Homo sapiens: one gene and its partners. The protein of the gene in region 6 purifies or fractionates together with the protein of the main gene of each other region. This does not show direct contact. Each region holds a gene or a part of one and is shown on either strand. Other genes may lie near its edges.

Region 1 (3,500 bases), on a different chromosome or scaffold from region 6:
TAATTATTGCTATCAAGGTATTTTGTAAGCAAAAGGTATTGAAACAGAGGATTGGATTGTCTCTGTAATCTTTGCAGCTCCTGACTGTCAAAAGACATGGCACAATATGTCATCAAAAAATGCATTTATGAGCTACGTTTTCTTTTTCTTGAGACTAGTCTCACTGTCGCCCAGGCTGGAGTGCAGTGGTGTCATCACAGCTCACTGCAGCCTCCACCTCCCGGTCTCAAGGGATCCTCCCACCTTAGCCTTCTGAGTAGCTGGGACTACAGGTGCATGCCACCACACCCTGCTAGTTTATTTTTTTGTAGAGACAGGGTTTCTCATTGTTTCTCAGGCTGGTCTTGAACTCCTGGGCTCAAGTGATCCACCTGCCTCGGCCTCGCAAAGTGCTGGGATTACAGGAGTGAGCCACTGTGCCCAGCCAAACGACGTTTTTAAAGCTATCTCCTTTTAGGAATTTATTAAATGCTCATTGAAATTTGGTACTACTCAGAGCTGTCTTGTGAATCCATATAGTAGTATAAATTTTACTGGAAAAATTGTAATCTTGAAGATACCCTTTTTGTATGTATGATTTAGTAGAAAACACTAGATCAGGAATTTAAACTTAGGTCCTAGACTTCATTTTGCCACAATTGCTTTCTAAATCTAACAACATGGACAGATCATTTAATCATTCTGAATTTGTTTTTTATGTATAAATTAAGGATTTTAGTTATTACTTTGTCTGGTCCCAGTAGGTCCTTATGGGAGTCGTGTTTAGTAATGATGTAAGCGAGTGCTTGTAGTAGTGCTTCAAAGTATATTAGAGTAGGCATCTTGATACTACTACTACAGAATCCATGTAATAGTGTAACATGGTGGGTGTGTAAGCTTATGAACCTTATGTCCATATTTCTTTGTTAAGCTCAACTACCCAAGTGTGTGTTAGAAGAAATAGCCAAATAAGATTCACTAGAGATGGTAGAATGCTATCTAAAAGTCCTGACTTCTGATGTTACGTAAAGTTTCCTACAATTTAAAATGCTATAATTGTTTAATACAGGACAAAATCTATTATGTAATGAGAAATTTGTTTCATCTTGCATAATTGAATTTTTTTTTTAATACAATTTTGAGTTATTCTTTTTTTGTGATTTCTCTTTCAGGAAAGATCGTCCTACTTGGAGTACCAAAAAGTAATGAGAGAAATAGAACATTTGAGTCGTTTATATATTGCTTATCAGTTTTTGCTGGCTGAAGATACCAAAGTACGCTCAGCTGAGGAATTAAAAGAAATGCAAGATAAAGTTATAAAGCTTCAGGAAGAATTGTCTGAGAATGATAAAAAAATAAAAGCACTTAATCATGAAATAGAAGAATTGGAAAAAAGAAAAGATAAGGTCTGAACATATGTATAAGAATCGATAATATACTCTGTGAAAAACGTACTAAATTATATATAGTAACTATTTAGGATTCATTGGGCATTGTCTTCCGTATTGATTTGTTAATCTTATAGTAAGATAATGAAATAACTTATAAAAAAGTGTTTGATACAGAACTCATACAATAAAATGACAGCGTGAACAAATTTTACATAAGTGATTGAATTGACTGCATTTTGTTATAGGAAACTGGAGGTATACTTCGATCTTTAGAAGATGCTCTTGCAGAGGCTCAGCGAGTTAATACTAAATCTCAAAGCGCATTTGATCTCAAGAAGAAAAATCTGGCATGTGAGGAAAGCAAACGCAAAGAGCTGGAAAAAAATATGGTTGAGGTAAGTGAGCTTAATGTGCCACTAGTGCCACTTGTAGACAAGTATATAGTCTCATTAGTGTACATTTATCTATTCCATGAATATTTAGTGAGTGTCTTCTATAAGCTAAGTACAGTTGTTTGGGCTGTGGTTACAACTGGACCAAATGGTCAAAAATCCTTGCCTTGTGGACCTTCATTCCATTGGGGGAAATGATAATAAAGAAAATAAATAAAACATGTAACATGTTATAGAGTGATAACTGATGTGGAGAAAAAGCAGGGAAGGGGATTAGGAGTGTAGGGGAAAAAGAGTACAATTTGGGATTTTAAGTTGGATAGCCACTGAAGTAAGTGGAGAATAGGAAGAACGGGTTTGATAAGCTTAAGAAATACAGTATGAATATAATAGGCTTGAGGAGCCTGTTAGACATCTTGAGTAGTGATGTTGATTAGGTACTTAACTATATGAATATTGAATCCAGGCAAAAATACAGATTTGGAGGCATCATCAATGTATAGGTGTTATTTAAATCCATGAGACTAGATAAAATGATCAAGGCTGTAAGTTCATATAAGAAGGTTGGAGCCCTGGGATACTTTCAACGTTTGAATGTTAGGATAGTTCAACATTCAAAAGAGATTGAGTAGTGTGAGGAAAATTAGGCCAGTAAATTGTCCTGGAGTCCAGGTAAAAAAGATGTTTCAAGGAGAAGTGGCCATGAGTACCTGATTAGATTGTGTTCATACTCTCACAGAATGAAGGCAGAAAAAAGAAAAGTGAATATAGATAACTTTTTGAGAAGTTTTCTGAAAGAGGGATAAATAGGGAGGTAACTGGAGGGTAATACAGAAGAGAGTTTTTGGCTTGATTTGACATGGGATAAATAAATTCTATATTGACAGAAAAGATCCAGTAGAAAAGTCGTCATTTGTGATTCAGGAGAGAGAGATGGGAGAGTTGTTAAAATAGGGCCCCTTAGTAGCTGCAAGTAGGATAGGAACTAGTGTATAGAGGAGGTCGCCTTCGCGAGAACTAGGAATAGGTCATCCATGGTAACAGAAGAGTCAAGTATATAGTCTCACATGTAGGTAGATGAGTAGGTGTGTTTTTGGAGCTTATGGCATTTCTTTTGAGGGTGATTCTGTTGTCCCAGTGAAGGTATACATTTGCCTTTTCACTGAAAAAAAATTAACTTTGTGAAAATAATTTCTTTATACTGCCCTGTTAGATATTTTTGCAGAGAAATACATTGTTGAATTAAGAAACAGTGGAGGAAAATTTAGACAAAATTTTGAAGCGATATGAACGTGTTGTAGCAGTCTGTGTTGTGGCATCCAAGAACTGAAATCAATTCATCAATTACTTTTTTTTTTTAGGTGAGGTTTGTAAAGCTCTAAACATGTGGACCTGCCTTGTTTTGGGTTCATTTTTCTTTAGTCTTGTCATGTCCTTAAGCTTCACACACTGATTGCTCCTTTTTCATCCTTCTTTTCTGTATCCCCTTATTCTTCTAGATCTCTTAATGTTAGTATGCCCTAAGGCTAGCACTCTGATATCTTTTATAAACTCTCACGCCATAGGTGGTCTCATCCAGCTCTGTAACTCTAAATATCATCTATATGTTGATGCCCTCCAAATCTATAAGCAGGCTTAACTCCCTAAACTCTATGAAGCAGGTTTATTGTGTGCAGATTACCAACTTGTCTGAAGCCAGCAGACATAACACATTCATACACAACATTTTATGTGAAAT
Region 2 (3,500 bases), on a different chromosome or scaffold from region 6:
CTCCTGCTCGAGGTCTCTTACCGTTGACATGGTTGATATTGCCCTGGATTTCAGCCTGAGTTAGGTAGTGGTCATAGATGTCCTGGCTTTCTCTGTCATCCTGCAAAAACTCCATTGAAAGGGAACCTGGGAAACCCAATTTAATCTCCTTGTCCTGCTCTTCCCTGCCTGGCTACACTTATTTCTTCTTCTGGGGACCTTCCCAAGGCCAAAGTTCAGTCTGCTCAGAATTCAGGAATTGTGGGGTCTAAAACACTTGGCACTGACATAATTAAGCCAAACCAACCTTTGGAACCTCCAGTCCAATCTCATTCTGTTCTACATTCCAGCACCCCTCTCAGGCTTCCCTGAAGATCATCCCCCAAGAACCTCTTCTCCAGTCTTCTCTTCGGAATTCTCATCATTCTTCCAAGTTCCTTTCCTATTTCTCTAAAATCACTGATAAATTATGGTTTCTCTAAGAAGCAATTTTGGATACTAGAGACATGACAGATAGGAGTCCCGGTTTCACTTGAGACTTTCCAGCCACTCAACTTTTCGGTCCCTGCAACCCAAGACTACTCCTTACATGGTTCCTGGCATTGGCTGCCTTCTCCATCTTGGCCTGGGCCAGCATCTCTTGGTAGACGGCTGCCAGAGGCTCTCGGAGATTCTCCAGAAGAGCACTGGGATTCTGCAAGGCAGCCAGGGTGTCCTCCACCACCCCTCGCTCCACTGCTTCATTGATGGCAAGAACAGCTGCATGGACTGGGAGAGGGCATGGAAACAAGGTCAGGAGGCCAGAGTGAATCCCAGATTGGAGCGCAACCAGTAGCAGCCCACTCTAATGTCATCCTTTTTCCCACCCTCAAGGGCCAGACAAACCAGGTAGCCTGATGGCCCTATCTGTGGATGAGAGCTGGCCAGAACCCATCCAATGGCTGTGAGGCTTGGAGCCCTCCCATACGCATTGAGCCTACTCCTGGCAGGGCAGAGCCTAGTCCTTACCTGCAGCCTCATCCACCGAGAGCTCATTGGCCAAGATGCCCCCGATCTTGCTGAAGGCAGGCAGCTGGAGGCCATATTTGGCCAGTTCGGACGCCATGTTGCTGAGTTCCTCAGCTGCAATGATGCCACAGGTGCCCTTCATCAGGCCCAGAACCCCCAAGACCCTGCCCAGGCTGTGGTGGTCAGGGAAGGAGCTGGGCTTACCTGTGAATTTCACTTTCCCGTATAGATCATGTATCTGAGGGGCCAATCCCAGCCGGAAGAGGAAGAGACTAGGAAAAAACGGAAGGCATTGGAAGGCACTGGGGCCTATTCATTTTGACACTCTGCCCACGATGGGTTTGAAGGGGATACTATGGGGACCTAGAGATGAAGACCACTCAGCACCTGCCCTCAAGTCATCCCCAACCCACATAAAGAAATATGACCATAAATCAGCCCAAGGAAAGTGCTGCAGAAGGTAAATAAGATGGTGTTGGGGGTCTGAGGGGATTAGGAAGGCTTCACAGAGAAGGCCACATTGCAGTAGCAGGTCACTCAATGGAGAGAGAGGACAGGAAGGGCGCAGCAAGCAGATACCTGCTGAGCTAAGGCACAGGGGCACAAAGGGACATGGGAAGTGGTCAGAAAGAGATGGCATGGTAAACACAAGGAACCGGTCGGTCACTTGCTGTGATTTAGCCAACTGGTTGCTGATGGCTGGCTGTAAGTAGGACCAAAGAGCCTACACCATCCATACTAAGTGTCTTGCCTGTGTTGCTCTCAATAGGTCCTGTTCTGATTCCTTTATACCCAGTTACAAACTGAAGGCCCTACCCTGCTACTTTCCTATCTCTGGTACCCTGCCTGCCCTTCCCCTTCACCCACACAGGCCATACATAAATGTGCCCACAGACATGCACAAAAATCTAAACACAACTCTGTAAATCTGAAACCTCACTCTCCTGAGCAGTGCTCCCTGTGGTCTACCCTTCATCCTTCTTTCTTGCTGAGTTTGTTGTTGTTGATTGTTGGTCGCATCCACCTAGAGGAACCTGGATGATAAAATTTGAGGTCTCTCACCTGAGAGCATGGATGCAGTAGACTACCCGGGGCATGTTCTTTTTGTCATAGATGTCCGTGGTCTCTGGGAAGAAGGTCTAGAGGAGAAACCAGCCAGTTACTGCCATTGGGAACCTTTAAGCACCACCAAATGCGGAGAGGGGGTGCCGAGGAATGGGTCTTCCTCTCCAACCTGAGGTGTGTGTTCCCTTGTTACCTGGGGTGTCTAGGTCAGTCTCCCCCAACCATTTCTAGTCAGCCTAGTATAAAAGAAATTCACTGAGGATGCATACTAAGCCAAGGCTCAGCCACAGACACATAGTCCTAGGGTGCCCTGGATTAACCAAACACCAGATAAGGCCATCAAGGCTACAGGATATAAGCCATATCCTCCAAAAACAATAACAGCAACAACAACAAAAAACCAGGCCCCCAGTTGTCTTCCAGATGTCTATAGTGAGCCTGCATGCCTCACCTTAGACCCTTGCCAGAGATGTGGTATGCTGGAGAGCTGGCCTACTCCCATGCAGGGCCCAATGAAGCATATATTGCCAAGGACCACAAAAGTGTCAGGCTGTTATCCCTGTCTCCAAGCCAGCGGCTTCTGATCAATGAGAGCCCTTCTAAGAACCGAGTGGCACCAGGTATGGCTTCTCAATGCCACCTGACAACTGTAATGAGGCCTAACCTCAATATATCTTGGTTATATTTAGATTCACAATAAAAGACCAAATTTAGAGACCTAGAGTGTTCCAGTCCCACTGAAGACACATGACCTCTATTGCTTCTGCCTCCCATCGAAGTGTCTTTACTGCTGTTTCCTGTCTTATAGTGCCTTTCTACAGGGAAGAAAAACAAAGCAGAAAGAAACCATACATTGTAGAATCCTATCATGCCTTCATTTGTATAGCTCTTCACAGTTCACAAAGGGAGTTCACACAGACCATGTGATCTTCCTGACAACACTGTAAGGTAGACAGGGCAGGGCTCACTATCCCCATTTTACAGATGAGTAACAAATTGAGGTTCAAAGAGTGAAATCATGTGTCCAGTTGGGGTTTTGGACCTAGGCTTCTAACTCAAAGTCTGCCACCTAGGGATGTGTATACCCTTGCTTCACACTGTGAAATTTGGTGGAGACAAGGCTGGCCAATACGAGCATGACATAGCAGCCTCCCACCCCCTGCATAATGGGAACCGTGCCACTCAGGCCAGGGAAACTTCACCTCCTTTCATCCACAGGGAAGAGGAGGCAGAGAAAAAAATAACCTGGTTCAAAGACACACAGCTGCAAGGAACTGTTCTCTTAGATTAAGTTAGTTTAGAAGACACATGGAAATAGGGCTAAAGGGTCCAGGGAGATAAAGCATGGGATTGTGGGAGGTGGCTGGTAAGGAGTAAAGATGAATACCAATCTTCAGGCCCAGTATTACCGAAGGCAGACCGATGTGGGCTATTGCAGATAGCCAAAA
Region 3 (3,500 bases), on a different chromosome or scaffold from region 6:
AATCATGGGGACAGGTCTTCCCCATGCTGTTCTCGTGATGGTGAATAAGTCTCACAAGATCTGATGGTTTTAAAAACGGGAGTTTCCCTGCACAAACTCTCTCTTTGCCTGCGCCTTCCACATAAGATGTGACTTGTTCCTCCTTACCTTCCAGCATGACTGTGAGGCCTCCCTAGCCATGTGGAACTGTAAGTCCATTAGACCTCTTTTTCTTCCCCAGACTTGGGTATGCCTTTATCAGCAGTGTGGAAACAGACTAATACAGTGATTATTCTTTAAAAAAAAGAATAATTTTTTTTTTAAAGAGGCAGAGTCTCGCTCTGTAGCCCAGGCTAGGGTGCAGTGGCTCAATCATGTATAGCTATAATCTTGAAGCCCTAGGCTCAAGTGATCCTCCCACCTCAGCCTCCTATGTAGCTGGGACTACAGGTGTGTACCACCATGCCTGGCTAAGTTTTGTATTTTTTGTAGAGAGAGTCTTGCTCTGTTGCCTAGGCTGGTCTGGAACTCCTGGCCTCAAGCAATCCTTCCCTCAGCCAGCCATTATTCTTAACAGTTTACAACCTCATCCCCCCAGGCCATATCTGACCACCGCAGACAAACTTATGGCTAGAACCTTCCTGGGGGGCCGTTCCTACAAATCACCTGGTGGGCGCTAGAGCAGCACACCTTTCTGGTCAGGCTCATCACCCACCCTCTGAAGGCTCAATCTCTCAAATGTTTGTTTCTTCCCTGCTGATAGGAGGTGGCTTACAGGTATCCCAGAACCCCTCAGAACATACAACCCTCCCCTTTACCAAGATAAAGGCAAGTGGCTCAGGCCTGGGCTCCTGGTGCCTAGTCAGACAGGGGCCTGGGGGTGGGTCTTTCTGAGACTTCTGGGGTCTGGGCACAGGGCTGGGGGCAAAACAGGAAGTCCTCAGCCTAAGCACTCTGGCTGAAGAGCACATGATTGAGAGCACGCACTCTGTGCAAACCTGGCCCTGCCAGTCACTGCTGAGGGACCCAGGGCAGGTCCCTTAACTCCTGAGTGTTTCCTCATTTGTAAAGGGGGCCGGTCATGGCACCAGCCATAGCGGATGTTTAAAGAGCAAAAGAGGCCACGCATATGTATTACTCTGCCCTAGCCAGGAAAGAGGAAGAGTCTGGGGGCGATGGTGAAGGGTGGGTCACCCAAGGACCACTCCCCAAAACTACCCAGGTTGGGGGTGGGGAGTAGGTGTGTTACCTGGCCTTGTCGAAGTATTTGCCGGTGTAGGCCATCCCACAAGCGGCCCCGAGGCCCTGGCCCAGGGAGCCAGTGGCCACGTCGGTGAAAGCTTGTTTCTGTCATAACAGAAGGCCACCGTTAATCTGAGAGGAGAAGGGATCCTGGTCTCACCCGCCTAGGGAGCCACACTCCCACCCAGCCCAGCAAGCCCTTCCTCTGCAGAAGGTCAGGCCCCAGGATGGCCTCTACCTAGCATGTGACTTCTTCTCCTAATGAACTAATTATAATTATAGGTTCAAATCCCAGCCCTGCCCACTAGCCAGCTATGTGGCCTCAGGCCTCAGGCAAGGGACTGAACCTCTGTGAGCCTCAGTTCCCACATCACCCACTTCACAAAGTGCTGGGAGAGAGAATCATGAAAAAATTGACAGAACATTTGCCCCTCGTGGGGACCCAGACCATGTGACAGTTTTTGTGGTAATCCATGAAGTCTTAACGTTTGCAGGGATGCCAGATGGCACCCCAAGGAACAAACTGGGTCCCTTCCCCAGGGTTTCGCCAGCATCCTGCAGCCACTCCCTTATCGAGTCCCCTCTCTTCCCAAGCTGTAGCTACCTAGCCAAGGAGGCCCAGTGCAGAAGGGTAGCTTGGGGAGAGGCCCTCCCTGAAGTCATCCCAGAGCACCCTGGCTGAGGCCTCAGAAGGCCTTCCCCTTTGGCACCAGCTTGGGTTGAATACGTGTCCCCAAAACACCTGCTTCTTTCCTTCCTCAACTCAATGCCCTCCTCCGCCTTTCAACACCTTTGGCTTCTCAGTGGGCACCCCCTACCCCCGTCCCACATGTCTGGGAAATAGGAAGTGGAGGCAGAGGCATGGGAGGCTCTGGCAGGAGCACTTACCGGGACCGGGTGCCCGTCCAAGTCGGAGCTGATCTTCCTCAGGTTCAGCAGCTCCGCCTCGGCCAGGAAACCAGCTTCAGCCCAGACCGCGTAGAGGATGGGAGCTGCATGGCCCTGCCGGGAGATGGATGGTGGGGTGAGGTCAGGTGGGGAGCGGTTCTACTTCGGGCTGTGCCTACTTCACACTGACCCCTGGGGCCCGGCCGAGCCGGCCAACTGCAGCATCCATTTCAGGGGAGGAAGCAAGTGAAGGCCACTTCTCCCCTTTCAGCCCTCTTCAGCCTCTTGGTTTTCAGCCCAAAGTTCCCACTGCCAAGGCCAGGCAGGCACTAAGACAGGTGCAGGGGGCACAGCTGTGAGGCTGGACGAAGCCAAAACCCCAGCAGGCAGCCGGCTGCCCTAATCCCTGGTTTGTGGCATGGGAACAACTTGGACAGACTTCTAAGCTCTAAAGCCTGCCCGAGAGACCAAACGCCACGGAGGCAGGCCTGAGCACAGGTGGATTTCAGGGATCTGTGGCTGTGATTCCACCCAGAAGGGGGGGGTCAGGGGGTCCCCATCCAAAACCCTGCTACAGCACACCACCACCCCGAGGGGGCAAGCCGTGGCCTCGGGAGCGCTGGCACAACACAGATAGAGCAGGTAGGGAGCCACAACCCAGACCGAGATGCCAGTCCTGCCTGTCAACACCCAGACTGGGCAGAACACACAACAGATGTTTCCGTAGTCCCCTACTCCATTTCTTTGAGTTAAAGCGTTGTTTATGTACCTGGGCTCCATGGCAGAGCAACCCATCAATTCAGTCCTGTATTCCTTAGCCAGCTGGGTCAGCACAGAGCAGGACACTGAGGGAGAGGCCAGGACGAGCAGGGAGAAGGCACCTGGGAGAGGTGGGCCCAGCCAGGTCTCCTCAAAGACCACTCACCATTCCAGGGCCCGTGTGACCCTAGTCCCAGGCAAGGTGTGGCTGGCAGTGGGCAGCTGGGCTCTTACCTTGGAGAGCACAAAGCGGTCATTGTGCGGATTCCGGGGGTCCTGGGACTTGTAGCGCATGGTGTGGAAAAAGAGGACAGCCATGATCTCTGCGGCGCTGCAGCATGACGTGGGGTGGCTGTGGCCCAGGAGAGAAGACAGACACAGGCATCATGGCCCTGCACTCCTGAGCTATTGTGCTCAGCTGTACAGGGACCTGGGGGTGCATGTCCTGAGGAGTCACACAGGCCTGGCTTATCAGACAGCCACGAGCTCTTGTTCCCTGGGAGGGTGACACATGGTCTCAAGAAGGCCACTCCTGGCAGTTTGGGGCCTGGGCCAGCTAGTGGGTGCTGGGGACTGTTGTACCTTTCCAGGGGCATCAGATCCTCAGAATCACGGCAACTGAAAATATCTGG
Region 4 (4,190 bases), on a different chromosome or scaffold from region 6:
TCCTCTTTTTTAACCCTGGCTAGGGGTTAAAAAAGTGACCTTAGTCACTTTCCTTTGCTATGCCTCATGATTTCTCTCCTCTCTGGATATCCCATGGCCTCTAGCAATTGGATCTGGTGGGAGGTAGATTTAATCATTTACAGCAGCCAATTAAACTATCTGCACAAATGGAAATGTTCTGTACCTGCACTAATATGGTAGCTTCTAGCCACATATGGCTATTGAACACTCTAAGTGTTGCTACTACAACTGCGTAACTGAATTTTTAATTTTAATTAATTTTAATATACACAGTCACATGTGGCCAGTAGCTACCCTACTGGATAGTGTAGATTTATAAACAGGCACAGCCATTTGCCACAGTGAGTGGTTTGTGCCCTAACATGACAGTGTCAGACTCCTATGATATTATAATGGCAGTTATCAAAAATATTTGTTATTGGGGCCGGGCGCAGTGGCTCACACCTGTAATCCCAGCACTTTGGGAGGATGAGGCGGGTGGATCACCTGAGGTCAGGAGTTCGAGACCAGCCTGGCCAACATGGCAAAACCCCATCTCTACTGAAAATACAAAAATTAGCCAGGCATGGTGGCACATACCTGTAATCCCAGCTACTGGGGAGGCTGAGGCAGGAGAATCACTTGAACCTGGGAGGCAGAGGTTACAGTGAGCCAAGATAGTGCCACTGCACTCCAGCCTGGGCAACAGAGTGGGACTGTCTCAAAAAAAAAAAAAAATTATATATATATATATATATATATATGTTATTGGGCTGCCTCTGAAGTAAAGCATCACAAGGCTCTTTTGCCACCAGTGCAGCACTAAAGTGGTAAATAGTAGCACAGCTTTTGATGAAGGAGTTAAGGTATCAAGAAAGATTACCTTATGTTCCAAAGAAAAATACTTACAAGAAACGAGCCCCCTTATGAACCATGCTTCAAACACTGTTTCTTACTAGGAATTTTGCAAGAATACAGTAAAAAAAAAATTTTAAGGAATTCCTCTCCAGCAAAATCCATGAGATGGTGCATAGGAGTTATATTTACAAAGCATCATTGTTATTCTCTCTTGCATTGGTGGTGATAATAGCCAAGTCATTTCTGAGGCTGTCACAACACACTTCACAAACACCGTCTTTTGTTTTGAAATGTTGTAAATCATTGTTATAGTCCCCGTAATTATGGAAAGGCCATTCAGGTCAATTATTACTTTTTAACAGAAAAATTATTTGAAAACAAACTGAATAATAGTGGGTAAAATGATCTTTTATTTCATTGTATATAAAACATTGTCTTTCTTTTAACAGCAGATTGCTGTTCCCCGCAATGATGAATGGGCACGGTTTGGCCGAACACTTGCAGAAATTAATGCAAACCGAGCTGATGCAGAGGAGGAAGCAGCTACCCGAATACCTGCTTAGTTCCTGAAAAGGGGAGTGTAACTAGTGGATTTGGGAAAGGTTCTTAAGTAGATCCTGAGACTATTTGCATGCTTCTGTCTAAATGATAATTAAAAGGAAATTTCATGGATTAAACCATGGGTTTAATGCAGCAAGGAAACTTACAATGTCCCTTTATATATAACATGCATCTTGTTTTGGATTTGTGTCATTTTTTAATATAGCTGATTGACTTCACAGAAAGCAGCTTTTTTGAATTCTAATACATAGGTGTATATTTGGTATTAGTTATTTTGAGTTCTTTTCAACTTATAACACTGTATACAGTTATTTCTAAAGCACAGATGAAATAAGTTCTGCATATTTTTAAATAATCACAGTTCCCTGTTATACAGATAATGTTCTCACTACCCATAATATGTAGGAACATTGTTTCTCCTTAGCCGTAGTATGCATACACCTATCCATGTTCATTCTGACATCCTTTGTTGTCTTTATAATTCATGTGGTAGTTACCTATAAATAAAAACAAATATGCGTTAACTTTTCAAATTTTCATTTTTACTCCTTACAACTTGAATTTTTCCATCTTTTATAAAATATATTTTTTCCATATCTTTCTTTAAGCTCCTGCTGTGAGCAGCCATCTCAAATCCTATAGAGCTGTGTACCCTAAATATACCATGTGGTATATACTATAGATCTCCCAGTGCATTATGAATTGATGTCTAGATAATCTGTTGGTGAAAAAATTTCCCCTAGGTTAACTTTTGCTTTACTACTTTATATTCTTTCCATCTAAGACATATTTCCTTTAAAGGATAAATAGAAAGCTGCCTATAATTTTCACTGATTAAGAACTATGTATGTGACCTCACTGAGAGTAAAATCTTTGAGAGAAATTGATTTCATGATTTCAGTAGCCATAAAGGCAAAGTGCTCAAATGGACCCATACTTTGGCATTAAAATCTACATCTTGAGATCTGTTGCCACAGCATTGTCTACAAGTCCGAAAGGTAGGTGACAAATATCTAAGAATCAGTATTGAAATCAGTGAATTTCAGGAATAGAGGAAAGGACTATGATCAGATCTTGATTTTATCTACTTTAAATTGTCTATTTATTTGATCCCAACCTTTTGTACTTCTGAAGTGTAACTGTCTTTTATTCAACAGAACATGAACTAGGAAGAGAGATTAGAAAACAGAATGTGAACATTTTTCTTTTAATAATTGTAACAAAGATTTGTTGGGAGAGAAATTTCCAAATAATGAGTAGTGTATAGTGTAAGGAATAATTGACCTGGAATTATTGGCCCCAAACTCTGATTCTTGCTGAAGCATCTATGAGAAGTGTGATTTTAGCCAAGTCTGTGCCGCATTCTTTATATGTAGGAATTAAGTTTTGATTTAATGATTTCTGAATTTTCTTTCAGCTCTACTCAATTAAGGGGTATCAGTATGTGAAATGGAATATAGAAAAGTAGGCAATTCTTTACTTTTCTATATTCAGTTTCATAAATTAATACCCCATAATTGCCCATTATATACCAAAGACAATATCTCAAGTTATCTCATTGTAGCAGTGTCTGTGAGTCAAAACTTCAATTTTAGTAGAGTCACACTTTCTTTATATAGAAAAATTCATGTACTCACTACTCATGTAGTTACTGTATCTTTACCTTCAGTTTGTAAAAATGACTAAAAGTAGGGAAAACAAGTGTTAAAACATAATGGATAAGAAAAGGTTGGAAATCATATGGCAAATCACATGTTCCTCAGCCTCAAGGTGTGTTTAGTTGTGAAAGAAAGAATAAAATTGTTTAAATATTTCACTTTTTGGGAATGACTTCTCCCCTACTCCCCCAGAAAATGCGATGTATACCTTTGCCCATTCAACTTTAGTCCATATTTTTAGGAACACACAAATTTACTTTAAGGAATTACCTTTAAAGTTGACTATATAATAGCAAAAGAGAAAGTATTGAGACTGTCAGTGTTGATAAAGCTTCTAGCAAGATTAGGTTGACTAGAAGTGCATCACAGTTCTTTATACTTTTAGAACTAAAAGCCTTATAATTTTGAAAAATATCCAGTTACAGAAATTGTACCTTATCAGTTATACTTTTTTTCTGAGTAAGAAAACAAGCTATAGCTTTCTGGTTAATTTCTTATTTTTCGTTGTTTGGTTTTTGTCTTTTTGAGTGGAACGTTAAAGTTTATTACCTTCATGTTAAGGAATATCCAGCTTCACAGACAATTAACTTGCAATAAATCTCTGAAATAATCATTTTTTGGTATTATTTAAACCAAATATGCATTGGTAGAAGCTTTCTTCCTGTTTACAGATCCAGCTCCCTATAAAGTTTAGAAAATCTCTTTGTATAAAATGTTGTTACAATAATGCTGAAATACTGCATCTCAAAGGAATGGATGACTTAAAATTTAGTGGGAGGAACTATAGGAAAGTCGTTTTAGGAATGATTGGTCCTAGTCTTTCAGTGTTGTTAAAATGTTTTAGTCTGTTCTGTACTAGTGTGGATAGACTAATATCCACCCCTTGAACCATACAGAAAGACTTGAATGGATGAGTGAAAATCTGCTGTGAAGCATATCATACTATCTTTGCTTTATATTGAGTAGTGCATTACTTTTAAGTCAGAAAGCCAGTAGGTTTTTTTGTTTGTTTGTTTTTCCCTAAAGCGCTGCCATAAATTTCAGTGGTCACCTGCCACTCACTGGGCGGTGTATTTTTAAATGTCTTTTCCACAACCCCAGTATTTCAACATT
Region 5 (3,500 bases), on a different chromosome or scaffold from region 6:
CTTCCAGGCCAACACCCCCGCCCGCTCCCACAAACACCAAACAGAATGTAAAAATCAATAGACAATAAAACCATATTACTCTTGAGCATCTGATGTGCTGCCCGGCAGGACTGCAAAACATTAGTGAAGCTACAGCCCTCAGACAAAGCAAGGGCCACCCACGACACCTCCCAGGAGTCCAGCCACAGCCACAGTGTCCATTCCTGCGATGATTCGTTCTTAAAGGGCCCCCACCCCCACTGCAGCTGAAGCGGGGAAACGGCGCCTGGGATGACATTTTCAGCTGAAGAAGCTGAGATGTCCTGGTGCCACCCAACCCCCAGCAGAGCTCCTGGTAGGGAACACTGAGCTGTTCCTGCCACACACTGCTGGTCTTGAGGCCAGACTGAACGCTGCACCCGCATCCACTCACCACCGTGCCAAACACCACCGCAGCGTGGCCGTCGGCCTCCATGTGCTCCTCGCTGAGGGCCTCCACCACATCAGAATCTGACCTCAGAAAGAACTGCGTGAGCTTCTGGCCAATCAGGTCCTGGCTGCTGTACCCCAGGAGCCCGCAAGCTTTGTCGTTAGCAACCAGGATCTGAGGAATCACAAAGAGGAGCAAGGATGCAGACATCCCCAGCAGCTCCACCAGCTGCCCAGAACAGCCCAGGACGACCATGCAGAAGCCAGCCTTTTCCTGACAGACAGGGTCTCACTCTGTTGCCCAGGCTGGAGTGCAGTGGCGCAATCAGAGCTCACTGCAGCGGCGCAATCAGAGCTCACTGCAACCTTGAACTCCTGGGTTCAAGTGATCCTCCTGCCTCAGCCTCCCTGGTAGCTGGGACTACAGGTGTGTGCCACCGCACCTGGCTAATTTCTTTGTAGAGATGGGATCTTGCTATGTTGCCCAGGCTGGTCTTGAACTCCTGGGCTCAAGCAAACTTCCCACCTCCCGAAGTGCCCAAATGTTTTTCTAATTGCATTAAAACACACAAATCCCAGGTTTAAGGCACAAACCACAAATCCACATCTACACAGCTGGATCTAAAAGAGAAGCAAATACCTCTGTGGTCTTGGCATCCACCGTGAAGATGGCCTTGTTAGGGTTGCACACAGGGGCCGGAAGCAGAGGTGAGGACCACCCTGAGGACAGTCCCCGCAGCAGGGAGCAGCAGGACACACTGCCCCGCGGTTCGGACGGGTCCGTGTGCTCAGGGGCAGCAGGGCAGTGCAGTTTACTTGTACAAATATTCTGGGCAGCCAGTGATGATAGACAATAGGAGCTCCATCTGTCTTCTGAAAAGAGAAGCGAAGCGAAGCTTTAGACTTCACACAGCTGCCAGAGTCCACCTTCTGAAACAGGCAAAGCACACAGCCCTTGCCCTCAACTCCTGCAAAAAGATCTAAGGATTAAGTCAGTCTGCACAGCTAACACACACTCTCACTGCGTGTCTGAACATGGTCCCCAGAATCCACTTAGGCAACCACCAGGTCCACTCGGAAGCACAAACAGCATAAGATCAACACTTCTGTGTCTAAATTACACTCAAAGCCAGGCGTGCCTATAATCCCAGTTCTTTGGAAGGCTGAGGCAGGAAGGTTGCTTGAGTTCAGGAGTTCAAGACCAGCCTGGACAACACAGCGAGACCCTGTCCCTACTAAAAATAAAATTTGTAAAAATCAGTTGGGCATAGTGGCGTGCCCTTGCAGCCCCATCTACTCAGGAGGCTAAGGCAGGAGGATTGCCTGAGCCCAGGAGTTTGAGACTGCAGCGAGCTATGACTGCGCCACTGCACTCCAGCCTGAGCAACAGTCAGACCTTGTCCCAAAAAACAAAAAAGCTTAATTACACTCAAAGGTTCCTTCCTTCCCACCTTCTGTCCTCTGTCAGTCATTCCAAGACCCCATGGCCACTCCGGTGGCTGCCCCGTCACCTCCTCCTTGGAAGCGTTCCTACGATTCAAGAGCTCCTTGTGCAGCGTTCTCTCAGCAACGCCTCCAATGGCTCCCAAAACCCTCAGCCCCGTCATTCCTCAGGCCTCACCCTCCTCCCACACCACCCTCCTCGGGCACCTGGGCTCCCCCACCTCCCACCTCTCAGTGACCCTGGCTCCATCTCACCCATTCCTCGGTAGCTTTAAATACATCTAATTAGAAATGCACTGAAGACTCTCACACTCGCACCTCCAGCCTGGACCTCCCACGGCCCACTCGCCTGCTTCCCCATCTCTGGAGACACCAGATACATTCTTCCAGTGCTCAAAACCAAGCACTCAAGACCTGACCCTTCCATTTCTCTCCCATCCCCTCCCCTCCATGTCCTCCAGCCAGGACCCCTGACTTTCTCAGTGAGTGGCCTGACCCCGACCATTCTCTGAGGCTGGAAACCACGTGGCCATCCAGCCACTCTCGCCCCTGCTCTTCCCCAGACAGCAGTCACCAAGCGCAGCTCCTTCTCATGTCTCAAGGCCCTGTACCTCCGGCTCCCACCCCTGCTCCTCATGCAGCCACCAGAATGATGCTCCAAAAAAGGAACACACCTGTCAACACTCACTGAGAACATTCCTGATCAGCGCCTGGGTGAAGCCCACTCCCAAGGGCGCTGTGTGCCTCCCAGCCCACCCCTCCCTGCAGTATCCTGGGCACTCTCCACAGGGCCCTCCGCTCTACACCCTCAGACACTCCAGTGCACAAGCTCAGCTCCAACACCCTCCTACTCCAGTGTCGAAGTGCTCCTTGACCTGGAGACCAGACTCCCAGCCACCATTTCCCGCAGCTCTATGCCCCACTTCCCCATTTTCCAGGTCTACCCCAACTTCAAGCACACAGCCTGCTGTCTCCCCAAGTGCCTCCATCAGACAGCCCCTGAAAGGCAAGTGACGCTTCCTTCCTCACCATGGCCCAGTCCTTTGGGGTGCCTGGACAAAGGAGGCACCAACGGAATCTGGACATAGGAGGCACCAACAGACTTCTGCCCCATGATTCTTGGTCCACCAGCTAAACCGCGTTTAGCTCAGTAAACTGCACGAGCAAAGCTGCAATTCCCTAAGTAAAATAGCCTAACCTAGAACAGCGTTCTCACATACTCTAAAGTAAGAAATAACATTTTGTTGTAACTTGACCCTGAAATGTGAAGGTGAGTTCCACCTGCTGCCTGAAAAGAAGCGCCAGCTGCCTGGGAATCACAGCAGAGTAAAAGCAGCAGGAAGGGTCCTGCCGGAGTCATCTGCCAGCATGAGCCGAGCACTTAAACCACGAACTTTTCTCTGCAGGAATAGAGTGACTTCAATCCCTGGTGAGAGGGTTTCCATGAGAACACAGAGCAACTCCACATTTGTATTTCCACGCGCTAAGGCCTGCAGTGGTCGAAGGTCATTACCAGAGAGCGCTGTCCTGCTCTGGCAGAGTCTGGAAAGCCCATTCCTTCTGCTCAGGTGTCTGTGGGCTGAGGAAAACGACCTGCTGGGCTCAGCAGTGGTCTGTGCAGCTGGGCCCTCTGCTGACACTGGCAAGGG
Region 6 (3,500 bases):
TATGGGAAACCTCTGCTAGGTGAATCTCAAAGTGGGAAAAGGCAGGGATAGACAGCCACTATGTGAACCAAGTCTGCCTGGGCCGTCTTTGTTCTCTGACAACTCAGGGAGTCCCTGCTTGGGTAATGCCATTGATTTGATAGATGAAGATGGCAATTTACCAATGAAGATCACTAATGGGAGCCAGGAGTGGCGGCATGCATCTGTAATCCCAGCTACTGGGGAGGCTGAGGCAGGAAGACTGCTTGAGCCCAGGAGTTTGAGACCCTCCTGGGCAACATAGTGAGACCTTGTCTGTGAAAAAACAAAAAAGATCACCAGTGAAGTAGCTTAAGACCCATACTTGCTACCCAGAGAATGCATTCTTAATACTGACTGGTAAGGCTAACGTGTATTCCCCAAATAGGTCTCCATATGGTACTAGCTTCTTATTTTTTCAGTCTGAAAATACTGAAAGCCACATGATCTCACCATGTTCACTTCATGTATTTTTTTGTTTTTTCTTTGAGATGGGGTCTCATTCTGTCACCCAGGCTGGAGTACTGTGGCACGATCATGGCTCACTGCAGCCTTGAACTCCCAGGCCCAGGAGCTGGGACTACAGTAGGCATGCGCCACCACGCCTGGATAATTTTTGTTGTGGTGGAGATGGGGTCTCGATAGGTTGCCCAGGCTGGTCTCGAATTCCTGGTGATCCTCTCACCTAGGCCTCCCAAAGTGCTGGGATCACAGATGTGAGCCACCACGCCCAGCCCGCTTTATGTATTATACTTATAATAGTAAACATAAGTATCTTCTTCATATGCCTTCATTTTATCTCATGAGGAACTAAAGACAAAAATAAATAGTCACTGGAATTAAAGGCAGCAAAGGGTTTCAAGCAGGAGAGTTCTGTGTTTTTAAACTATCACTCTGGCTCTAGAATGGAGAACAAGTTGATGCAAGGCCGAAAGCTGAGGGGTGCCCTACCCCATCCCCCACATGACCACCAAACAACTAGATCCTGCGCAAAGCTGATCGCAACCTCTGTGACTGTCCTCATGGAAAGAAAAGAAAACCTGCAAGAATCTCCAAACAAAACAAAATCCTGGAAGCTGAAACCAACGCGTGAGCACTATGCAACACAAAGCTGGGGGGACCTTGCAACCAATGCCTATGTGTCAGCACTGCTATTAGCAGAATGGAGAAGCTGCACTGTGGACACCTGCACCAGACAGGGCCCTGGAAGGAGGTTCAGACAGTCCCAGATTAGCACCTTCTCACTTCTCTGCAAAAGCAATAGCATCCCATATAAGGCTCTTTATATTCCCAGAGATTAACATCAAGCAAATATGAGCTCACAATCAAAGATCACCATAACATACATGGAGCAAAGCCACCCATAAATGACAGCAGAAGCCAGAAGCCAGAATTCAATCCTCTAGAAACTGCAGGTATTGGACTTATTAGACACAAACTAAAAATAAGTGTTATGAAATGTTTACATAAATAAAAGACAGCAACAAACAATGAACAAGCAACAAGAAACTATTGACAATGATCAGACAGGACCAAACAGAATTTTTAGAAATGAACAAAAAGTCAATGTCAAAATAAAAACTCATGGGATGGTTTAAATAGCAGATTACACAGAGCTGAAAGAAAGAGATACTGACCTGGAACACATAGGTATGTAAAAAATACCCCAAATGTGATACAGACAGAAGATGGAAAATATAAAAGAGAGGTTGAGACATAAAGTGAAATGCTCTAACAGTCACATATCTAATTGAAGAAAATAGTGGGAGGAGAGGATATATATATATATATATATATATATATATATATATATATATACTTTTTTTTTGTTTTTGAGACGGAGTTTTGCTCTTGTTGCCCTGGCTGGAGTGCAATGGCGCGATCTTGGCTCACTGCAACCTCCGGAGAGGCAATATTTTAATAGTAATGGCTGAGAGATTTTCATGAGACACCAATGCAATCCATACATTCAACAGGGAAAATATTTCTTTTTTTTTTTTTTTTCCCTTTTGCTCTGCCGCCCAGGCTGGAGTGCAGTGGTGCAATCTCAGCTCACTGCAGCCTCAACCTCCCAGGCTCAAGTGATCCTCCCATCTAGCCTCCCAAATAGCTGGGACCAAAGGTGCGTGCCACCATGTGTGACTAATTTTTCTTAAGTTTTTGTAGAAAACAGTCTCCTTATGTTGCCCAGACTGATCTTGAACTCCTGGGCTCCCAGAGTCCTGGGATTATAGGTGTGAGCCACTGTGCCTGGCTGGGACAATGTTTTCTAAGTAGGATGAACAAAAAGAAAACTATGCCTATACCCACAACATAACAATCCCATTTCTAGGTACAGCCCAACATAATGCTCCAAAAGACAAATGCAAGAACGTTCAGTGCAGTTCCATTTGTGAGAGCCAAAAACTAGGAACTACCCAAATGCCCATCAACAGGAGAAAAGAATAAACTGTGGTATGTTCACACAACAGAATACCACACAGCAATGCAAATGTATGAACTACAGCAACAACACAGATCAATCGCACAACCAGGTTGAGCCAAGAAAGTCAGACACAGAAGAGTACACACTGCATGATTCCTCTCCATAAAGTACAAAAACAAGCAAACTGAATCTATGCTGTAAGAAGTGGTTACCCCGGGGACTCTGGTGAATTCCATCTCTTGTTCTGGGCGCTGGTAACACAGACGTGTTCAATTTGTTGACAATTCTCCTAATTGTACAAATATATACATTTTCTTATGTGTATCACACTTTAATAAAAAGTTAAAAAGAGGCTGGGCATGGTGGCTCACACCTGTAATTTCAAGGAGGATCCACTTTGGGAGGCTGAGGCAGAAGGATCGCTTGAGGCCAGGAGTTTGAGACCAGCCTGGGCAAAATAGTGAGAGACTATCTCTACAATGAATAAAATAAAATAAAATATAAAATAAAATAATAAAATAAATAAAATAAAATAAAATAAAATAAAATAAAATAAAACAAAGTGGCCAGGCCTGGTGGCTCAGGCCTTATGTAATCCCAGCACTTTGTGAGGATGAGGCAGGCAAATCACTTGAGGCCAGGAGTTCAAGACCAGCCTGGCCAACATGGTGAAACCCCGTCTGTAGTAAAAATACACACATACACACACACACACACACACACACACACACACACACACACACATCAGCTGGGCATGGTGGTGGGCACATGTAATCCCAGCTACTTGGGAGGCTGATGCAGGACAATTGCTTGAACTTGGGAGGCAAAGGTTGCAGTGAGCTGAGGTTGTACCACTGCACTCCAGTCTGGGCAACAGAGTGAGACTCCGTCTCAAAAAAATAAATAAATAAATAAATAAAAAGTTAAAAAGAAAGAAATGCACACAGCAAATAAAAACCACTAAAGATACAGGTCTCAGAAGTAACCAGAGCACAAAAGTCAGATACCTACTGTGGATGGCACAATACTGGCCTCTAACAGAGACTATGTGACATTA
Region 7 (3,500 bases), on a different chromosome or scaffold from region 6:
ACTAAACAGGCAATAATCATTTCTATAGCAGAAATATTTTAATTTTTATGTTTTTAAAATGCACTAAGGTCCAAATATTTTGACAAAGTTCTTCCTCAGAGACTTCACATGGCTTTTCTTTCAATCTTAGGAGACAGTGAGTTAAAAGGAAACGTAAACTGGATACAAATGCTGCATTTCTTTCTCCCTTTCCTTAAGAGAGAGGGAAATAATATGAGAAAGTGGTAAAAATTATGGTTAAAAGAAAAATGAAAAGATCTGGCTCTTGGTCAACAGGCAAAAGACAAACCTTCATCTAAAGTGATATAAATAGTTATTACATACATCATAAGCTCCAGCCTTGATCTGCTGATAGAGTCTGTGTTGGTCTTCATCCCAGAAGGGTGGATACCCCACAAGTAGAATATAGAGAATGACACCTGGAGGAGAATATAATGTTAACACAATTTAAGTCATATAGACAACAGTAAATTAAATGTGGCTGATCCACAATGATATTAAGCCGTAGTTGTTAAAACAGAGAAAACTGGATTGTAGGAAAACTTCAGAAAGATGTGTTATGATCTAGTCTAGAGCAGTCTCTGGAGGGTGAATGCTTCTCCTCCTATGCTCCAGAACTCTGACAATGTGTCAGTCAATGCATGCATCAAAGAATTCTAAAGAGGCATGGCAGGGCAACATTCATTTAGGGCAACATTCTTTGGCCCCCCTGAACTCTTGTCTATAGAGGGTCTTACTGCATTCTTATCTATATAGAGACTATGATTTTAGTCACTGTGAGGTTGAAGTTTAAAAACTAAGCATGTTTTTTATTTCCTCATACTTGTTTTGATGGTCATTGGGACATTTTGTTGAGTGATGGTGTCCTGGTTATAAATCCACGTTCTAAATAACCATAGTCCCTGCAAATGTGGGTACCCCATAGAGACAAAACCCTTTTCTTTTCAGTAATCTTAGTCTTCAAATACTTCAAGCCTTCTCAGTCAAACAACTAAACCAACAAGACTACAGAAGAATATATATTATGGGAGAGGAAAAAGGGAGAGAAGGGAGAAATTCCACAGAAAATTCAAAGTAATAATAACAATAAACACATGGCTGTAATAAAATTTGCTAAAATTTTTCACAAACATAATTATTTATAAATTAACCAAAATCTAATTTCACTTTTAAAATTAAAAAAATTCTGTATTCACAGTTTGTAAATTTCCCTGAAATCATATCTGCAGTCTAAATGTCTGAGATTGTTTTGATACAGTGGTCTTCTCTGTCATCAAATATCTCTCCTGCCACTTTTCACGTATTTTATTGCCTTGCTTAAGGCCTTTGGTTTCTTTCCTAGCTCATTATCCTGGAGGAAGGCAGTCATTCCTCTGACCTCTCCTGTTTGCTTTTTTCTTGCTATGTTTCCTTAAGCCTAGGAAACCTGAGAAGAAGAGTAAGACAGGTGACACTTTGCCAGGTGTACCCTGAGACTTATTTTTTCCCTTATCCAAGGTGGTCTCTTGGTCTCTGTACCTAGGAGATCTATCCCTGCTCCTGTCCAGCAGTCTGGACATCTTTATACAATAGACACTGTAGCAGCTGAAATGGTTTTTAAGCAATGGTTTAATCATCTTAGAATTTTATAGCCTGCTTCAGGAAGATACAGTTCATAAGCAGATTTTTTAAGTCATGTGAATCAATACAAGGATAAAAAATTTTAAACAACATTCTTAAGGAAAAAAAAAAGACCATGAAGAAAACCACAGTATATTGGTACCTCACCTTCATGACATAAAAATAATTTTTCCATACATCTAATGAAAATGATGATAGTAATGATGATGATGAGTGTTTCTCTTTGTGTTCTCAGGAGGCAAGTAGAAAAAAAGCTGTACCTGAGTAGTTTTAGCCCTCAGCTATATAAGGTTCCAGGAGGTTAAGAAGAAAATTTGCTTTGTAATAGTGATAGTTTCCATTGAATATGAACATTTTCCTAATACACATCTGGAATTAGGCTGTTATAGAATTATGAAATAGTGGCTCAACTGAGACATTTAGCATTCTCAACATAGGCTGTTTGTCCTTATGAATTATGTCTGCAGTTGACAGTTGATGTGGTGCTTCTCTGGGAAGAGGAAGCTCACAGAGGGCTCATTCCATGAGAAAAGCAGGCAATATGTAATAGATGCCCACAATTTAGCTGTTTGATGGAGGAGTGTTTACAAAAACATGTACTTTAAATAAAATAATAGCATAAATGTGAAGATTAAAAAAAACACTTTTAGGCCCAAAGACTTAAAAAAAAAACATATTATAGGTGCTATTGACTAGCCTGATGTGAAATTGTCAGTGCCTATTTAAATAAACACCGTTTTGTAAGTTTACTTCAACTTGATTATTAAACAAGCATCTAAAACCTTTCTGAGTTATGCTATTTTGTAGTTCTATTTTCTGAATGTATAGAACAAGTATGAGACTCATGGCATAAGGATAATGTAATACTAATAAATTTTATTGTAGATAACATTTATTCAGAGTTATGTGTGCTTTAATGCATTATCTCATTTAATCCTTGTATAATGCTATGAGGTAGATATTGTTATTATCTGCATTATATTATAGATGAAGAAACAGGCTGAGAGATTAAGTAACTGTTTCAACCACAAGCAGGACAGACATAATGATGCTCTAAACATTCCCTGCAGCCACTTTTTCTTTATCTATGAACTTTAGTAGGAATGATAATATAAAATTTAAAACTTTGTGTTGTCTAACTGAGAGACCTTGACATACTAGCAAAGATGTCCATTTGGTCCTATCTTAAATGTTCCTTGCAGCTACTTTTTCCTTTAGCTAGGTCCTCTAAACAAATGCTTATTTTAAAAGTGTTTGTTGTTCTAGGCCGGGCGTGGTGGCTCACACCTGTAATCCAAGCACTTTGGGAGGCCAAAACGGGCAAATCACCTGAGGTCAGGTGATCACGACCAGCCTGGCCAACATGGTGAAACCCTGTCTCTACTAAAAATACAAAAAAATTAACCGGGCATGGTGGCACATGCCTTTAGTCTCAGCTACTCGGGAGGCTGAGGCAGGAGAATCGCTTCAACTCAGGAGGTGGAGGTTGCAGTGAGCCAAGGTCGTGCCACTGAATTCTACCAGCCTAGGTGACAGAGTCTTGTGACTCTGCCTCAAAAATAAAAATAAAATAAAATAAAATAAAAGTGTTTGTTGTTCTAATTGAGTTCTTGCCTCATGAGTAAGCCCAATTTATCTTTTTAATAAACCTAAATTTTACCTTTTTTCTATGTCAGAGAAAAAAGAAAGGAAAAAATCACTAGCTCTTTTTCTTTGCCCATATACCTAAAGTACTAAAATCATTAAAAGTCAATGAAGAAGTCTTTTTTTTGCGAGACCACTTGAGGGGTGATGATGTGACCTCCAAATGTTGGGTATCTCTCATGACACTAGCAGCCTTTTATGATTACTGCCTACATAATTTTACTGGGGTTGCAAAA

The links.
Region 1: the proteins of NINL (region 6) and SMC2 purify together in Homo sapiens (affinity purification with mass spectrometry, with the first as the bait; one large-scale study listed by BioGRID). This does not show direct contact.
Region 2: the proteins of NINL (region 6) and IQGAP3 purify together in Homo sapiens (affinity purification with mass spectrometry, with the first as the bait; one large-scale study listed by BioGRID). This does not show direct contact.
Region 3: the proteins of NINL (region 6) and TKT purify together in Homo sapiens (affinity purification with mass spectrometry, with the first as the bait; one large-scale study listed by BioGRID). This does not show direct contact.
Region 4: the proteins of NINL (region 6) and DYNC1I2 purify together in Homo sapiens (affinity purification with mass spectrometry, with the first as the bait; one large-scale study listed by BioGRID). This does not show direct contact.
Region 5: the proteins of NINL (region 6) and PASK purify together in Homo sapiens (affinity purification with mass spectrometry, with the first as the bait; one large-scale study listed by BioGRID). This does not show direct contact.
Region 7: the proteins of NINL (region 6) and CAMK2D purify together in Homo sapiens (affinity purification with mass spectrometry, with the first as the bait; one large-scale study listed by BioGRID). This does not show direct contact.

The regions. Positions count from the first base shown.
Region 1 is NC_000009.12:104,100,809-104,104,308, forward strand, and holds part of SMC2 (structural maintenance of chromosomes protein 2), read left to right. Parts: intron 1-1,151; coding exon 1,152-1,385; intron 1,386-1,615; coding exon 1,616-1,765; intron 1,766-3,500. UniProt on the Homo sapiens protein: Central component of the condensin complex, a complex required for conversion of interphase chromatin into mitotic-like condense chromosomes.
Region 2 is NC_000001.11:156,562,566-156,566,065, forward strand, and holds part of IQGAP3 (ras GTPase-activating-like protein IQGAP3), read right to left. Parts: coding exon 3,462-3,500; intron 2,868-3,461; exon of another isoform or gene 2,771-2,867; intron 2,127-2,770; coding exon 2,050-2,126; intron 1,260-2,049; coding exon 1,192-1,259; intron 1,102-1,191; coding exon 988-1,101; intron 748-987; coding exon 569-747; intron 101-568; coding exon 22-100; intron 1-21.
Region 3 is NC_000003.12:53,239,023-53,242,522, forward strand, and holds part of TKT (transketolase), read right to left. Parts: intron 3,221-3,500; coding exon 3,103-3,220; intron 2,224-3,102; coding exon 2,110-2,223; intron 1,327-2,109; coding exon 1,229-1,326; intron 1-1,228. UniProt on the Homo sapiens protein: Catalyzes the transfer of a two-carbon ketol group from a ketose donor to an aldose acceptor, via a covalent intermediate with the cofactor thiamine pyrophosphate.
Region 4 is NC_000002.12:171,746,469-171,750,658, forward strand, and holds the end of DYNC1I2 (cytoplasmic dynein 1 intermediate chain 2), read left to right. Parts: intron 1-1,307; coding exon 1,308-1,421; 3' UTR 1,422-3,690; downstream 3,691-4,190. UniProt on the Homo sapiens protein: Acts as one of several non-catalytic accessory components of the cytoplasmic dynein 1 complex that are thought to be involved in linking dynein to cargos and to adapter proteins that regulate dynein function.
Region 5 is NC_000002.12:241,139,473-241,142,972, forward strand, and holds part of PASK (PAS domain-containing serine/threonine-protein kinase), read right to left. Parts: coding exon 3,365-3,500; intron 1,282-3,364; coding exon 1,049-1,281; intron 584-1,048; coding exon 413-583; intron 1-412. UniProt on the Homo sapiens protein: Serine/threonine-protein kinase involved in energy homeostasis and protein translation. Phosphorylates EEF1A1, GYS1, PDX1 and RPS6.
Region 6 is NC_000020.11:25,470,532-25,474,031, forward strand, and holds part of NINL (ninein-like protein), read right to left. Parts: intron 1-3,500. UniProt on the Homo sapiens protein: Involved in the microtubule organization in interphase cells. Overexpression induces the fragmentation of the Golgi, and causes lysosomes to disperse toward the cell periphery; it also interferes with mitotic spindle assembly.
Region 7 is NC_000004.12:113,517,239-113,520,738, forward strand, and holds part of CAMK2D (calcium/calmodulin-dependent protein kinase type II subunit delta), read right to left. Parts: intron 420-3,500; coding exon 325-419; intron 1-324. UniProt on the Homo sapiens protein: Calcium/calmodulin-dependent protein kinase involved in the regulation of Ca(2+) homeostatis and excitation-contraction coupling (ECC) in heart by targeting ion channels, transporters and accessory proteins involved in Ca(2+) influx into the myocyte, Ca(2+) release from the sarcoplasmic reticulum (SR), SR Ca(2+) uptake and Na(+) and K(+) channel transport.